Regions from separate parts of the Homo sapiens genome. Here region 2 is linked to region 1. A link means that fine-mapping ties the variant in region 1 to the expression of a gene that starts in the linked region. Tissue or cell type: nasal epithelium. Region 1 holds a variant in brackets; the other region holds the start of a gene. All regions are shown on one strand. Distances are between the middles of the regions.

The links. PIP is the estimated chance that this variant, and not a neighbour inherited with it, causes the effect.
Region 2: ADAMTS15 starts here. The variant in region 1 is fine-mapped to the expression of ADAMTS15 in nasal epithelium (TOPMed, PIP above 0.99).

What each region holds. Positions count from the first base shown.
Region 1 is chr11:130,827,609-130,835,712 of GRCh38, reverse strand. No RefSeq gene overlaps it. Among named protein-coding and RNA genes, the nearest start is that of LINC02551, 30 kb to the left of the region's middle. The variant G/A (reference allele first, on the strand shown) is at 4,104.
Region 2 is chr11:130,444,696-130,452,799 of GRCh38, reverse strand. ADAMTS15 (ADAM metallopeptidase with thrombospondin type 1 motif 15) reads right to left here and starts at 4,155. Exons shown (of 8, transcript NM_139055.4): 1 at 2,870-4,155. The coding sequence starts at 3,826. RefSeq lists an enhancer at 685-1,186.

The DNA of each region.
Region 1 (8,104 bases):
ACCTGGAACATTTTTCAGGTCATAACAGATTTAAACAAGACATAACAGATTTAAAATTATTGAAGTCACACAACATATCTTTTTTAACCACAATAAGATAAAACTAGAAATCAATAGTAGAAGGAAAACTGGAAAGTTACAAATATGTGGAAATTAAACACACACTCTTAAACAACATATGTGTTAAAGACAAAATCACAAGAGAAATTAGAAAATACCTTGAGATAAATGAAAATGAAAATACAACATACCAAAACTTATAGGATGCCGTGAAGGCAGTGCAAAGAGAAAAATCTGTAGCCATAAGTATTCACATTTGAAAAAAGAAAGATCTCAAATCAACAACTGAATTTTATACCTTGAGTAACCAGAAAAAGAAAAATGATGAGAGTTTATCTTACAAGGCATCAAAGAGATTGTGCTTCTCCTGATGGCCTGACCTACTCTGGCTTCAATGATTCCCACAATGTTTCAACATCTGTAGCTGCAAACTTTCTCCAGCCCACACTTCCAACATTTTGCAAGATAGTATCACATGTGTATTATGTTCCACATGTTCAAAACTGAACCCTTCACCTTCCCATTGAAATTTACTTTGCCTTTTGTGGTTCAAATCCCAAGCCACAAAGTCTTCTCTGACTCTGCTCTCCTTCACCATCCTCCACTCCACAGCAAACTGGGGGCAGTGCCTCTACTATGTCATTCATACATGTTTTCTTTCTCTTTCTAAACCACTGTTTCCATTCAGCCCTCAGAACTTGTTACTGGATACTGAAATAGCTTCTAATTGCCTGCTTTCTGCTTCTTTGCTATGAGAGTGTTAAGTGTTAAGGGCATGGGGTCTGGGGCCAAAAATCAAGATCTGAATTCTGGTTCTATTGATTTCTGGCAGTTTGGACTTGGGAAGGTCACCCAGCCTATCTGTGCCTCATTTTACTCATCTGTAAAATGGGACATAATCTACCTCATAGATTGAAATGACAATGAAATGAATTAATTCATATAAATCAGTTAGAATGGTTGCTTGAATATAGCAGGTATTCAATAAAGGATGACTATTATTATTACACTGTGGCCTGGATGATCTTTCTATACCATAGTTCTGAAAAAGTCATTCCATAATAAAAAATAGTGATATAAAGTCTTAAGTCCTTAACTTCAAGCTCAAGCCTATCTTTCTGGCCTAATTTCTCACTGTTCCTTCCAGTAACTATACACTCCAGCCTGGTCTGTTTGATGTTCATAAAATATGCTCTGCACATGTCCACCTTATGAACTATGTTCAGGTGGTTATTCTCTTTGTCTGGAAGCTCTCTCTATTACCATCTGTCAAGTTCTAGCTGTATTTCAAAGTTCAGGTCAAATGTTACCACCTTTCCCCCATGAAGCCTTCCCAGATTAAACTGGTCATAGGTACTTTTCCCTCCTCTGTATCCATGCTTTGTTCCTTTGTTTTAGCAATTATCAGAATCTTCTCTGCCATGCAGTTAGCTGTGCCTCTTTATCTACAACCAATACTCAAAGGCAGGGATCTTTTCAATGCTTCTTTGCTGCCCCAAGACCTACAGTGACTAGCAGTCACACTTTGCTTTTTACATATCTAACATTCAATGACTCTGAATGTTGGATTTATATGGACCTATTTTTTATTTCTCCAAGGCTATGCTCATAGGTTATGGATTGAGAGAGAGTGTTGGATTGAGGACCAGTGTTGACAATAAAATCCTTCATAAAATGGGAAAAGACTTTCCTCTTTCCCATTACACATGATATACTTTAAAGAAGGAAATAGCTTGGAATTCTACTGTAGGACCTTGATATTTATTATTACATATGACCCTATGGGTTGGGTATCTCTAGTTTTGTCTCAAAAACTTGGGCGTGACCAAAGGAGCTGATATAGTTACTGAAGAAGTGTGCTGTTGCTACTGGTGGTTTTTGGAAGCTGCCCTCTAATTGGCATTAACAGTTCTTACAGAAAAAAGGAGAAATCTTACTAATTACTTTCTCCTTAGCCTCACTTCTTACAAAGCCAGGTGGAGTTAACCGGATTCATCCTGATTTCCCAAAAGAATTTATAGCATTGTATTCCCTTTGCTGTCTTTTTTTCTTATTTTCAACTATTATTGAGCCCCTCCATGAGCCAGACTCTGTCCATGTCTTTGGAAATACCAAGATGAATATAATTTTCCTGCCCTCAAGGAGATCTCAGTTTTATAAAGGGAAAATAGGGCTATATAAACAAATTGCTAACAAGTGATGAGTCGGAGGATAGAGACATGGGTAAGATGTTGCATGGACACAGGGGAGAGACTGACGGACTGTTCTTCGGGGGTCAAGGCTGATATACAAGGAAGATCTTAGACTATGTGATGTTTGGGTTGAGTCTCGATGTATTAATTGGAGTAAAGCGGACCCAAGGGATGACATATGAAGGAAAGGCTAGAGCAATGCATGGGCTTGTTTAGAGGAACCCCAGCTAATTCTATGACTCATGTTTTTATAACATCTTGAAGTACATTATTGCCATGACAGCCCTGTGATGTGGGGGTATTTTCATCCCCAGTTTACAGAGGAAAGACTGGAGGACCAAAAGGATTAAGTAATTTTCCCAAGGTTTCTTTGCTACTCAGAAGCGGCGTTCACTGAGTTTCCAACCTAAGGGAAGGAGTAAAAATATTTCCTGTCAAACCCATGCTCAGAGCGTAAATGAAATCTTTTAACACTCAAACCAAGCAGCTCTGCAAAAATAGTGCATTTCCTCTTAGGAACCAAAATGAGACTCAGACCTGAAACTAGAAGGTCTCTACTACAGCCACCCCAACACATGCCTTGACAAGACATAGTATCTTGTTTCTAAAGGCGAAAGAAGCACTTATAAACAAGACTGCAAAGGCATCTTAAGACAACAAATCACGCATTTAAAAAAAAGGAACATTCTGATGAGTTAAGTGTAAATGAATCAGAAACATATGGATTCAATCTACTTTAAAAGGCCCCATGGAGTTCAGAGTGAAGGGCAAAACCCTTGGAGGAGATTACATTTGGGGATTTTTCCAAACCTAGGGCCATGAGTTCTGCCAGGCCCAGAGCTGGGCTGGCATATAGATCTGCAAGGAAACCAGCAGACTGAGAATCTCAGAGAATGATAGGGGTCAATGTATCCTGAGTCCTCAAGCCCAGACTTGGACATTTTCAGAGCAACGTCCCTCCTAGAAACACCTTTCCTGAACATCTCATTCTGGACACAGGCTGGGACACTACGTCCAGCCAATAATTTCTCCTTAGAAACTCAACTTCTACAACTCTAAAAGGGTGTAGAGATTGAACTGAAACCCTTAATCTTTCCCAAAGATCCCCTCCCTTTGGATCGAAACTTTGTGAACGATGTCCACACCATGCTTTCTATCAACACATCTGGGTCCTTGGGCTCCAGAGCATTCGCCTTGGAAGATGAAATCGAGACCACAGTCATCTTTGGAAACATCAGATGGGAAATGAATGTGCACAGAAATATTGAACACGCTTAACTAAACAGGAAGCACTGTACGAAAAAGAGAAAGATCCAGACTCATCAGTCTGGTTGGGTTACATCAGCCATGAAAATAAACCCAAGCGGTAGGACTGGAGCCCAGAGAGATCAGGCAGGTTTAATGGAAACCAGGCAACGAGCAGGTGTGTCTCTCTGAGCATAAACATCCTTGATGGCACCCCGTGTTCCATGCCTTCTCCAGGGTCCGAGGTCCCACCATGGGATGCGAGCCCATCGCACTGTTTGCTGGGCCTCCATTTCTAAACCTACCCAAGTGCCCTCTTCCAGATAAAATTCTAGCCTGCTCTGTGGCTGATTTTTCTCTCTCACAGTGGGGTTGTCATGGAAACGGGCCTTTCCCATCCACCACTGATTGAATCAAGTTTCGGAGCAGGGGTGGGGGGAGTGCTAAGAAAAATGAGCAAGTGGAACAGGACTCTCCCCAAATGCTGCTTAAATTGAAATCATCTGTTCTCACAGCCCAGGCTCCCCTCCCCAGCCACACCCCGGCAGCTGTGAAGGTGGGCGGGGCAGCCGCCCTCACCAACAGGGTGGATCAGAGTAAGGTGAT[G/A]TGCTGAGAAATGCACTGAGAAATGCACTTCGGGCTGCTTTTCCCCCCTCCCCCTGCACGCCTGCTGCCAGCTTTCACACTGGGCATGGGCCAGCCTCTGGGTCCCTTTCCTGGGGCCACAGAGATAATGAAGAAGTTCTAGGGACAGTTGGGGAGCTGAGCCTCACAGGCATTCTCTGTCTTCCCGAAGCTCCCATTGTCACCTCCTCCCCAAGACAGGCCTTCTTCTCCCTTGTCGATGCCTGAAATCATCCACCTTAGCGTTTTGTTTCTTTAGCTTAGGACTTTGATACTTAAGGCAAATAACCCAGGTGAAGAAGGAATAGCAACGCCTTAACGTGAAGAAAGGATGCTGGCCCTGCTGCAGAAAGTGGGCATTGTCAGCCTTAGTGAGACAAATTTGCTGAGAGCCTACTGTGTGCCAGGCATGGTCCTAGATACCAGGACACAGCAGCGGGAAGAACACAGTGGCCTGGGGGGCAGGAGAGACAGACACCGTCCAGAGGAGTTCAGGAGCCATGTGGAGCACCAGAGACCAAAGATGCTGCCGTCATCCCCTTGCCTGGCTCGCAGGCTGGAGTCCAGAGCCCCAGGACCCTGTCTAGCACTTCCTTCAGCTAGTCCTGCCCTTGCAGGGAACATTCAAAATATCTGAGGAACTTCTTCAGATGCAGCAGTGAGCTCTCTGGCCTGCAGAGCCTGAAGGGCTGCCTAGGGTGGATGGATAAATGGCTCACAGCCTTCCTTAGACATGCCTCAGTGTGCATATCTGTTACTTCAGCACCAAGAGTTCTGATGCCCAGAGGGCAGGGAGGACAAGTCCAGGAAAGGACACTGCTTAGCAACGTTACACAGATGGCCAGCACTTTGGCTGAATCTGGCCGAGCCTCCTGTGGGGGGAGATGCTTCCAGAATCCGGTTACCCCTTCCTCCCACACCCCAGGATCTCCAAATCCACAGGGTTGGGCGGGTGCCTCCAAAGCCAGCACACTGTCAGTGAATGTTCTCAGCAGGTTCGTGGATAGATAGAAAAGGTGACCCGGAAAGGGGTGAAGGAGAACAATGGGCAAGGGTGCAAAAAAGGGGGCAGGATTCGGTGGTGGGCTTCTTGCCCAGCTTAATTGTTTTCATCCTCAAAATGATTCCTAACAGCTGGGCCAGGGATCATCCTGCTCAGATTCCACAGACTGCGGAGGGAAGCCAAGGGACTTGGCAGGCGAGTCCTGAGGCCGGTGCACAGGCGAGCTCAGTGCGGGAAAGGAAGGGGTGAGAGAGGCCCAGCCATTCTGCTCTGTTACAGCTTTTTTGGTGGGTGCTTTGAAGAGAGAGGGGTTGGCTACAGCCCAAGCTGAGTCCAGGCTTTCCTGCCAGGGTGTCCTCCCTTCCCTCCACATGACACCCAGGGTGGTCACCTTCAGGCCTTTCCCTGGACACCTGACCTGTGACATAGCTTCCAATTTCCTGTTGTCTTGTGCCAGCTTTCTCAGGTGGCCAGAGCAGAGGGCCAGCAAGGCCAAGGGCTAAATGCAAATCCCCAAGGAGATAAGTGAGCAGCATTCTGGTCTGTGGCCCCAGGTGGCTGCCCTGACCCTAACAAACCATGGGATGTATGTTGGCCTCTGGTCATGAGAGGAGCCAGCTGCAGCACGGGGCTGAACAGTGTAGCCTAGGTCTGTCCAGGCAGCTGTAGCTCCATCAACAGCAAAAAATTGCACATTTCAGCCCCTGAACTTAAACGTGTGTGGCGAACGTGGCGGCAGTGCTTGCCTGGCCCCAGCTTCCAGCCTCGAGGTGGAAGGGGTTTCAATACATGTACTAGTTTCTTCCAGGCTGTCTTGGTGACATGATTTAAATAATTATAAAACTCTCTAGCATATAAAATAGGTGACAAATACCAGAAATCAAGCACTGGAGATAAACAGCCTCAAACTAGGAATTTAGTCCTCCTGCAATATAATTCCATCTGAATTTTAGCCGTTCACTCAATCATTACCTGTTGTGTGCCTAATACTATTAGCAAGACACTGCTATAATTGCTTATCCTCTCATTTAATCCTTGTAACAGTCATGTAAGGCAAGTACTATTATTATCTCCATTTAACAAACGAGCCCACTGAGGCACAGAGAAGATAATTTAATTAACTCGCCCAAGTCACAAGGCTAAATCCTAGAGCAGGGCTTGGAACTCAGTGCTCTTGACCATCATCTGTATACTATGTGACAGTACTGTGCTGAGTTTTCTAAGGGAGTGAAAATACATTTACGAAGTGGTCATTGCCCTTGGGGAATGTACCATCCTCAAGACTTAAGAATGCTCTCCAGGCTGGCCTGCACAAATTTCCTGCCCAACCTGAAGCTTTGACCTCTGTATACCTTGGGTCTTTGGACTTCAGTGCTATGGCCTGGCCATCATCAGCCAGCCCCTCTCCTTTCCCTACCCATTAAACCCCAAAACCTACTGAAATCAACCTTATAAACCTCAACCTGTTCTTCCAGGCAGGTCACCCAGAGCTCCTTCCTACCTCGACCATTACCCTGAAGTAACGGAAAGGATTATACAGCCCTTGCCTAGCTTCATGATAAAGATCTTGTGCAGAGGCCAGAGGACACCGCTGAGTTGGGCCCACTGCCTGGGCTCAATCCCCGCAGCCAAATGTGAACCAGGTCAAATAGCAGAGAAATGAGACACACTGAACGCCGGAGCCCATTTGGCCTAGCCCAGCCAGCAAGGTCACCCTCAGCTGTCGGCTTGCAGACAGGTCACTTGGCATTTTAGTGACTACCCTCACCTGCAGATTTGGGAGATGGCACTTGGCATTTGGTCTAGAAACTGATTTCTCTGGACCCCAAGAGCTGGCACAAAGTTTTATAAATGAGCAAAAGTCAAAGAGAAGATTTCATTAGGAACTTAAATGTGGAGGTTCCAGTCAGGGTTGCAGCAAACAGGGCCTGAAAGCGCACCAACGTCAGAGTGATGAAGATACAAAAAGAAAGCCTAAGAGGGATAGGAACATTCTGGAGCTGGTGAGGGCTATCAGACACCATCGCAGAATGTTAGCCAGTGACTGGATCTCCTTCCCTGGGGAGCCGTTAAAACACAGGTGCGTTTTGAAGACAGGAGCTGGAGATGATCTGTCCATCCCACTGTTGACTTCTGGCTCTAGAGTCACCAAGAGTCTTTAGAGAGGGCCAGTGTCTTTGTTTGGTGCCTCTCCTTTGCCACAGCAACTGCTTGTCTCAGAGGTACTAGGGCATGGGGGCCTCTGAACAGCTTGTGACAGCACCTCGGCTCAGAGAGAAAGGGCTTCTTGTGGGGCATGATGTGGATGAGGATGGCAGGATAAATCAAAGGTGCCCCAAAGGACACCCCCTTTCCTGAAATCAGGCTTGGTTTTATAAACCTGTGAGGATTCCATTCTGTTCCAAGAGGGAAGCCAGGCGGGGCTGGCAGAAGCCCCCAGGGCGCCCAGAGCTGCAGCAGCCTCCAGCCTTGGGTTTCCAGAGTAGAGAGCAGGTAACATCCAGCCATTGTCCCCGCCTCCCTCCTTTGCAATGCCCCCATCCCTGACATCACAAGTGAAGGCCCAGGATCTGAGAGTTGCCTGGGTTATGGCAAGTTCCAGGAGGTGGCAGCCGTGTGTAGTCTGTGAGGAGGATCTGACTCACCCCCAGCGCCTCACCAAGGTCACTGTTGGTGACTGGGAGGTTTCCCACCCTGCCACCCCACCCCACCCCACGTCTGGCTGCTCAGGAGTCAGAGATAGCTTCATGGGCCATGGCTAACCCGAGACAGGCAGCACACCCACGTGTGCGGAGAGGGGCTCCAAGGCTGTGCTCTAGGGTGGCCATGAAGCTCAGCTGACTTCCAGAGAAACAGGCAGGAAGCAGGGGCTTGAGGGCACTGGGCCCGCTGTTGCCAGCTCTGCTGTCCCAGGCATCACAAGCCTTGCTCCAGAGAACCTCAAAGCGCAGCCCTACATGATCTAAGTAATTTTAGCTTC
Region 2 (8,104 bases), 380 kb after region 1:
CATGTTGGCCAGGATGGTCTTGATCTCTTGACCTCATGATCCACCTGTCTTGGCCTCCCAAAGTGCTGGGATTACAGGCGTGAGCCACTGCGCCCGGCCAAGGCCACAATTTATTACAATTTGTAGCTCCACAGCCCAGGGTAGTACCTAGAAATAATAATAAGTAATGCTCAACAAGTATTAAAAGAGTGTACAAATAAATGAATGAAAGCCATTCTACCACAAAGGGTCACCCAAACGGCAGCGTTATTGGACCTAAAGACAGAGAAGTCTCAGGGAATGAGGGAGGGCCTACCAAGTCTCGGCATTAAATACCTGGCTCCTGCCGCCCAATGCAACAAGAAGCCAAAGAAACTTTTCTCCTCATAGAAATAAATGAGAAACACTCTGGCTCTAGTTCTTCGCAGATCCTGGTTCCAGTCCTGTGCTGACCTCACCCTGCTGTTATGAGCCTGGAGACCGATCACTTTGCAAAATCAGATGTGCACTTTTCTCCATGAACTTATTCTGAATCTGTAAGTAAACTCCTCAAATTGTCAAAATACTTGTTGTATAACCACTATATTCTCCTTTCCGGGCAGTTAAGGTTCCCGGAGACCGCATCTGCCTTAATCTTAGAAAGGGCAGCTACTCCCTCCTGTTCTCATCAAATACTGTACCTTCCCCCAGAGATATCAGGAGTGAGAAGATCCTGAGACTCTCAGAATGCAGTAGGCCCTGAAGTCTGAGCTGCTGAGGAGGTGGGGAAGAGGGGTTTCCTCTGAAGCATAAAGTACATACCTTGATGGTGGCCCTGACCACACAGAAGCCTCACTCTCTAGCTTTGCTCTCTAGGCACCTAAGGGGAAGGCAGCTTCTAAAAGTCACATTTTGCACATCACTGCTTCTGATCCAGTGGTCATGCATCTTGTACCCATTATGCATGGACAACACAGCCCCCGGGGGGTTGAGCACACACCACTGAGAAATAGAAGCTGTCATGCTGTTTGATTGCTTCTTCTTCAAAAGGCGGCCTCCTTCTGACGGCATGGTCCCTATTCCCAGCAGGAGTTCTTCTCCTAGGGCTGACTCCAGAAGCCAGCCTTCACCACCAGGCTGCAGAGGCTGAGGTCTTTTATTTTGGAGCCAGTGAGTGACCTGCACTGGGGCAGCCCAGGTAACGAATGGGGCAACAGCTGCTTTGCCCATTAAGATATCCTGTTCTTGGCCTTTGCTTTTTTTCAAGCCCCAGCAATCTAACTGCCAAGCTGGTCTGTGTGCAGAGGTCAAAGCCACCTCCTTTGCAGCTTCCCCATGACTCAGGCAGTGCTTGCAGAGGCTGGGCAGTGGCAGCTCAACAGACCTCAGTTGGAAGAATGAGCACAAGGAAACAGACTCAGGCCAAAGACCTCCCTAGAGAAACCAGGTGGTGGGAGGAGAAGAAGGCTGGGAACAGAGGAAGTTCGACTCCAGGAAGGGACTAGCTGTGCCAAATGGGTTACTGTGGAAGACTCCAGCTCCAGACTGTGTGCGCCAGTCCAACTTTGAGTGACCATTTGGAAACAGTGGAGAGTTAGAGCCCCACAGGTAACCAAGGATTCCACGCCATCCCCAGAGTGCTGTGGTTATGATAATAACCAAAAAAAAGAGCATGGCACAGATTCAAGTCACAGTCCCCCAAATCAGAAGAAGAGGCTCACTTGGATGGCTCTTTTCCTCCCAGCCTCCTGTATCTGAGAAATTTCAAGAATCCAAATACTCCTCAGTGCCCAATCACTCCAACACCTGTGAATCTAAACGTTTGCAGATTTGTAGCTTCTTTGACATAGAATATCAGGAAAGGCCTTGCAAAAGGCAGGGCTGCTTCCTGGGCTGGGTCCATCTTTCTAATCCCAATACTCAGTTTCCTTCTAACTCTACAGCTGGAATCTCCAAATACTCTTGACTAAGCTCACACCACTTCCACCCCAGCAAGGGCAGAAGCTAGAGCCCTGAAGTCAAGTGTGGTCATAGGAATTTTAGTGACTTGGGAGCAGGAGCAAGCATGCCCGCTCTGCTCTGTAGTATACATCTGGGCAAACGGGTCACCCTCTGACAGCAAGGATACAGGAAAATTGGAAGAGATTTTCCCAACTCAGCTCCAAGTAAAACTCCACTTGAAACTCCAAGTGAAACAGTCTCAGCTCCAAACAGGTGCCCTAACTACACCGCCTGCTCAGAATGGTCTAGAAGCCTCTTGGACCATGCCCAGCAGAGAAGTCTGTAGGAGAAGCGGCAGTGAAGGAGGGATGCTCGCAGTACTTGAGTCTGGCCTGTCACTGCAACCCACAAAATCTCTCAATGATTCCCTCCACCCCAATCCAGGCTTTCCAGGCCCAGTACAGAGAGGGGACAACGTGTTACCCGAGAGAAATGTAGCAAGCGCTGACCTTGGATCACCTTCAGTTCTACAACCCTTGAAAGGAGACCTCAGGAGGTGTCCGAGAAGACTCAGCCGCCCATACAATAGGGGTGGGCCGTTCCCGCCCTCTCCAACACCATCCTCACGGCGTCTCCTATCGGTCTTGGACACAAACTGCAGCTCCGGGGCGGCAACTTCCTGGGTTCCGGCCCCTCGGCGCCTGATCCAGGAGGCGCTGATTGGCCGCGCCAGGCCAACACCTTCGGAAAGCGCAGGCTCTCCTCCAATGGCCCAGATGCACGTGAGCCGCCGCTCCGCGGAGCGTGGGAGAGGGCTCTCCCTGGAAACTCCACAGAGTTGGAGTCGGAAGAGATCAACGAGGTTTAAACTCGGAGGCATTGCACGATACAAAGGGGATTTGGAGCGCTAGGGGAGGTGACCCTAAAGAACGGGACTATCTGGGTGCAAAGTGACGGCAGATCAACTCACCTGCCTGGTGAAGAGGATGGCAGTGTCCCAGTACTCGGGGTGCTTGTCACTCACTTTGTTCAGCTTCTTCTGCCAGGCACAGAAGTTGCGCAGCGTCAGGGCCGCATTGCCGGTGACCTTGGGCCCGGAGTCACGATCTCTAAGAAGCAGCACCTTGACCACAACGATGTTGATGGGGTTGAGGATGCTGGGATGGCGGTAGAGTCGCGCCGCCGTTGCCAGCAGCGTCAGCAGATAATGTTCCAGGTCCGCGCCGTGGAACTTGACCATTGACTCGTCCGCGACCACCAGCGTCTCCACGTACCGCGGGATAGACACGAAACGCTTGGCGCGCCCAGACCTGCGCCGGCTACGACTCTCCCCGAAGCCCGCCCGCCGCGGCTTGTAAGGGTCCAGGGCCCGTAGGATGGCGGGGTTCCAGCCCGAGGCCACCCCGCAGCGAGAGGTGGGGTCTCCGGAAGGCCCGCCCGGAACACCCCGGCGCTGGAGAAGGTGTGCGCCCTGGCTGTTGCGCTGCGCCGCCGGCGCGCTAGCATTGGGCAGCGGGCTAATGACATACTCGGCGCCTCGGTAGCCAAAGGCTCCGCGGAGCCCCCCGCACAGGCTCACAGCAGCGAACGAGTCCGGCTCGGCGTTCACGTCCCCAGAATAGAAGCAGCGTCGCAGGTCTGAAGAGCCCCCGGTGAGCCCCTGGAGGGGGACGCCCAGATGCTCAGTGGAGAAGGCGGGAGCCAAGAACTGAGCATCCGGCGTCAGGTGTAGGTAAAAGTCCTCCTGAAATGCTGTGATCTGAAAAATGAGTCCCTGATCCCCGGAGTCCTCGGGACCCCGCCAGTAGTAGCGGCGGCCGTTAATGTCCGGGTCCAGTCGGATGGGAACGACTACCTCCCGCTCTGGCTCAGAGCCTCCAGCGGTTCGCCCGGCGAAAGCCAGGGTTAGGATGCCCAGCAGAAGCATGGCGCCGGGCAGCGCACCGCCGCGCTGTGGGAAGGGGCTGGGCCGGGCTCTCCGGCCGCTGCCGCGGTCTCCGTGCAGCCCGCACTCTGGAACCGCCAACGCTACGGGACAGCCGGCAGTTCCCAGAAAGGAGAGCCAAGGGAGGGAGACTCCTCCCAGGGCGGCGAGCGTGCACCCGGCAGCCCGCGCTTCCTACCTGTGCCTTTCCAAGCAAAGCGCGCCCTGGGAGCTTAAGTACAATCGCTGTCAAGTGCAAGGACGAAGATTTGCAGCCGAGAACTAGCGGAAGGTGCCGGGCGGCTTCTCGCAACCGCAGCCACTCGCAGCGCAGCAAGCCAGGCGCTGGGCGAGCCTATTAAAGGCCCCCTCCTCTTTGGACGGCCCAGTCAGCGCCCCTCCCCTCACTCCCCTCCCAGCCTCCCAGAGCTCGCTGCCGGAGCCTCCAGGGGCCACCGGAGAACTCGGTCCCGCCTCCAGAGCGGAGAGCCACTTGGCGGGGAGGGAGTGGCATTGAGCTGAGGCAGGAGGCGTGGGCTGGCCCGAGAAACCGGCGCTGAAGTCTCAGTTTGCGTTTTGCTCTTGGTTATGCCCCACTGTCCCGACGCCTCACTCGCTTCTGCCCCCGCGGACAGCGTTCACTCTCTGGGTCTTAGTCTTTTATCTCAGGGCAGATCAGGTCAGCAGCTAGGAATGAAGACCCTTCACTGACCCGTCCCCAGGCCCACCTCATCCCTGCTGTTGCAACATCCCTGCTGTTTCTTAATCACAGAGTCCCCTAAAAGACCCAGAATCAAGAACCACCCCCCCCCCCGCGTAAATGTCCTATTGCCAGAAGAGCAATAGGACAGGGGCATGGGAGCCCTCTGGAACCCAAGACCGCCTAGCCCCAAGGTCTGCCCTGGGCCCATGGTGTGCTGGATGGGCTGGGGCAAACTCTTCAGTTCTCAGGAATCTTGCCAGCCAGCTGTTAATCACGGACATTATTAAAAATTAAACTAAACACACTTACAATTAAACAAAGTGTATATATATATATGCACACACACACACATACATATATATACACATACATATATATATATACATACACACACACACACACACACACACATATATATATATATTTTTTTTTTTTTGAGACGGAGTTTTGCTCTTGTTGCCCAGGCTGGAGTGCAATGACGCGATCTCAGCTCACCGCAAACTCCGCCTTCCGGGTTCAAGCCATTCTCCTGTCTCAGCCTCCCAAGTAGCTGGAATTACAGGCATGCACCACCACGCCCAGCTAATTTTGTATTTTTAGTAAAGACAGGGTTTCTCCATGTTGGTCAGGCTGGTCTCGAACTACCGACCTCGGGTGATCCTCCTACCTTGGTTTCCTACCTCCTACCTTGGTCTCCTGAGTAACTGCGACCACAGACACACGACACCACGCTAGGCCAATTTGTGTGTGTGTGTGTGTGTGTGTGTGTGTGTGTGTGTGTGTGTGTGTATTTTTGGTAGAGACTGGGTTTCGCCGTGTTGCCCAGGCTGGTCTTGAACTCCTGAGCTCAAGCAATCCACCCACCTCGGCCTCCCGGTGCGGGGACTACAGGCGTGAGCCACCATGCCTAGCCACAAAGTACATTTTTAAAAGGTAATAAATACTCAAAACCCGTCGCTTCCTAAGTATTTGATAATTACTTATGGTCTTGAGCCACCAGAACCGCCAACCCTCTGAGACAGCAACTCCCAGAAAAGAGTGCAGAATGGGGTGGAAATGTGAGGGAAATATTAAATGGTGTGCTGCCCTGCATCTCCCCAGTCAGGGACATCACAATGGCTTGAAATAGGTCCTGGTAGAAGTATTTACACCACCTGAATAAGCAAATCAGAGCTGGGGTTGGGGGCAGGAAGATGAGCCCTTGTACACAGCTACCTGCCTGGCAGGGATGTGGAGATCAGGTTCTGGGGCTGCAGTTACAAGAGGAAGAGGCTGTCTTCCAGCAAACAGTAGAAAAATCGGGCCAGGCTTCCTCCATGAAATTATCTCATTTGACCCTTGACCAAACCCTGGACTGGGGACTGGCATAGGAGGCCGAGTGAGTATCAGCTGGAGAAGATGCAATCGCACCTTATGTTCCCATCTAGTTTGGAGAACAGCCCAAGGAGTTTTTCAGGCTCTAGACCTCAAGATCCTTCTTACCTCTCCGCAGAATCAACTTCTTTCTCTGACAAGGGAGAAAGGCAAGGAGAGGAGGGAGGCTTTGCTACTCTCTCCTGATACCTAGAAAATCTTTCTGGAGCCAAAGGGCTCTGAGTTGAGTTTGCAAGAGGGGAGGACAAAGAAGGGAGTGTGTGATGATTTTAAGCATAAAGGGGATGATGTGGGAGAATTTTGGAATTTTTTTTAGGGAAGTGGCTGTTCAAGGGAAGAACTCTATTGTCCAAGGAGAGAAAAGGCTGGGACTGGTCCATCAGTGAAGAGCACTTTTTGCCCATTATCTTCTCCCCATAAAGGATCCACTCTTGGAAGCGCCCCCTGGGGCCTTGGAACATGAAGATGGCTCAGATGCCCATAATTCCAGTGAGGCCTCTCCTTGATTGGGACACAAGGAGCTGAAATTCATTATGTGAATGAGTGAGAGATGGGTGTTTATACTCTGCAAATGAAAGAGAGTGTATGGGTATGGGAGGACTGTGTGTGAGACAGGGAGTTCAAGCTTACAAAGGCCCTGTGTGTTTGAGCGTTCAAAGAGGGCCTATAATTAAAGAGAAACGCAGACAACCAACAGCAATGATAAGTCATTTATTTGGGGCAAGCAATTGTTTTACTACACCCGGCAGTTTTAAAGGTGGATTGCAAGGTTTTCAACGGCACTTTACTTTCATTCTGACCCATGGGTTTTGGCAAGGGCTGCAGCATGTCAGTCAAGATGGCAGGGACCTGAGACAGGAAGTCCCTCCCACTTAGTGCTCCCCCTGCCCCAATCACAGCCCAGCTATTCTCACCCCTGAGCACAGAAACTGGCCATGTGGATTTGCTCAAAGGGATTAGCATGTATTGCAGGCTTAGTATGTGCTAAACATTGCACCAAGAGTTATATGTGCATTCTCGTATTTAATGCTTGACTGTCCCCTCTTGGAAGCCTGTGGTTCCATCCAATCACTTTTGCCAGGGAATTGAGGATCTAGGGATATGTTGAGCACTTGAGTAGAGGTGATACTCAGGATTGGCACTCCACTTCTATCACTGATCTGATTCTCTGACTCGTCTGTCAAAAGAGAAGGGGTTATCCTAGCTCAGAGGTCTTCAGCCAGAGAACTGCATCCAAAATCTGTGGTCTAGATAATACCTAAGATAACGACCAGGTCAAATATTACATGACTGATTGAGGCCTATGGAAGGGAACATAGTACAGTGATTTAGAGCCCATGGTCAGAGGGCCCTGTGTGCATGCCTCCACCAGATCTTAGCTGTGCAATCTTGGGTAAATTACTGTACCTCTCTAAGCCTCACTTTTCTCATTATTAAAATGGGGATACAAATTCTACCCACTGCCTGGACTAAATGAGTTAATATTATACTTCCAAAGTGTTTGGCAATGCTTGGTATATTTTAAAAGTTCCTTAAATATTATCGAATAGTACTGCTAATATTCTTATGTGCTATTATTATTACTCCTCCTAGTGCTATCAGTCTCTGCTAGGCCCTCCAAGCTGATTGCTGTCATCACCTTCTGAAGTTTTCTGGGGCGTGTCCTCTCCCAGTTCTGCTCGGGAGCTTTCACATTGGCTCCCACGTCCCACTTCCATAACGGGACTCCACAACCGCCATGGAGTTCTCGCTTCTCCTGCCCTCCATGATCTTAACATCCCTGGAAAATAAAAAGCAACTCCCTGTCAATGTATGAAAATGAAAATTTTTTAAAAAGCAGCTCTTCCCCCAGAGGACGACTGGGGGTCTAAGCCATCTGTCAGATCTAAGACCCCCAGCTTGGCCTTTCTGTCCTTCGCCAACTAGGCTGGCCTCTTCACAGCCTCCAGGTCTCAGCCCAAGTACAGCCCCCTCAGAGGGGCCTTCCCAGACCGCCCAATCTGAGAAGTCCCAAGTCACAATCATGATTGCATGTTTTGTCTTGTCCACTAGCATTTACCTCTATCTCTCTATCTAAACCTATTTTGCTCACTTAGATCTTTTTTTTTTTTCTTGACTGACTTCCCTCCGTTAAAATGAGAGCAGGACCTTCCCCATCTCGTTCACTGTTATATCTCCCAGAGCCTGACACAGTGCTGGGCTCA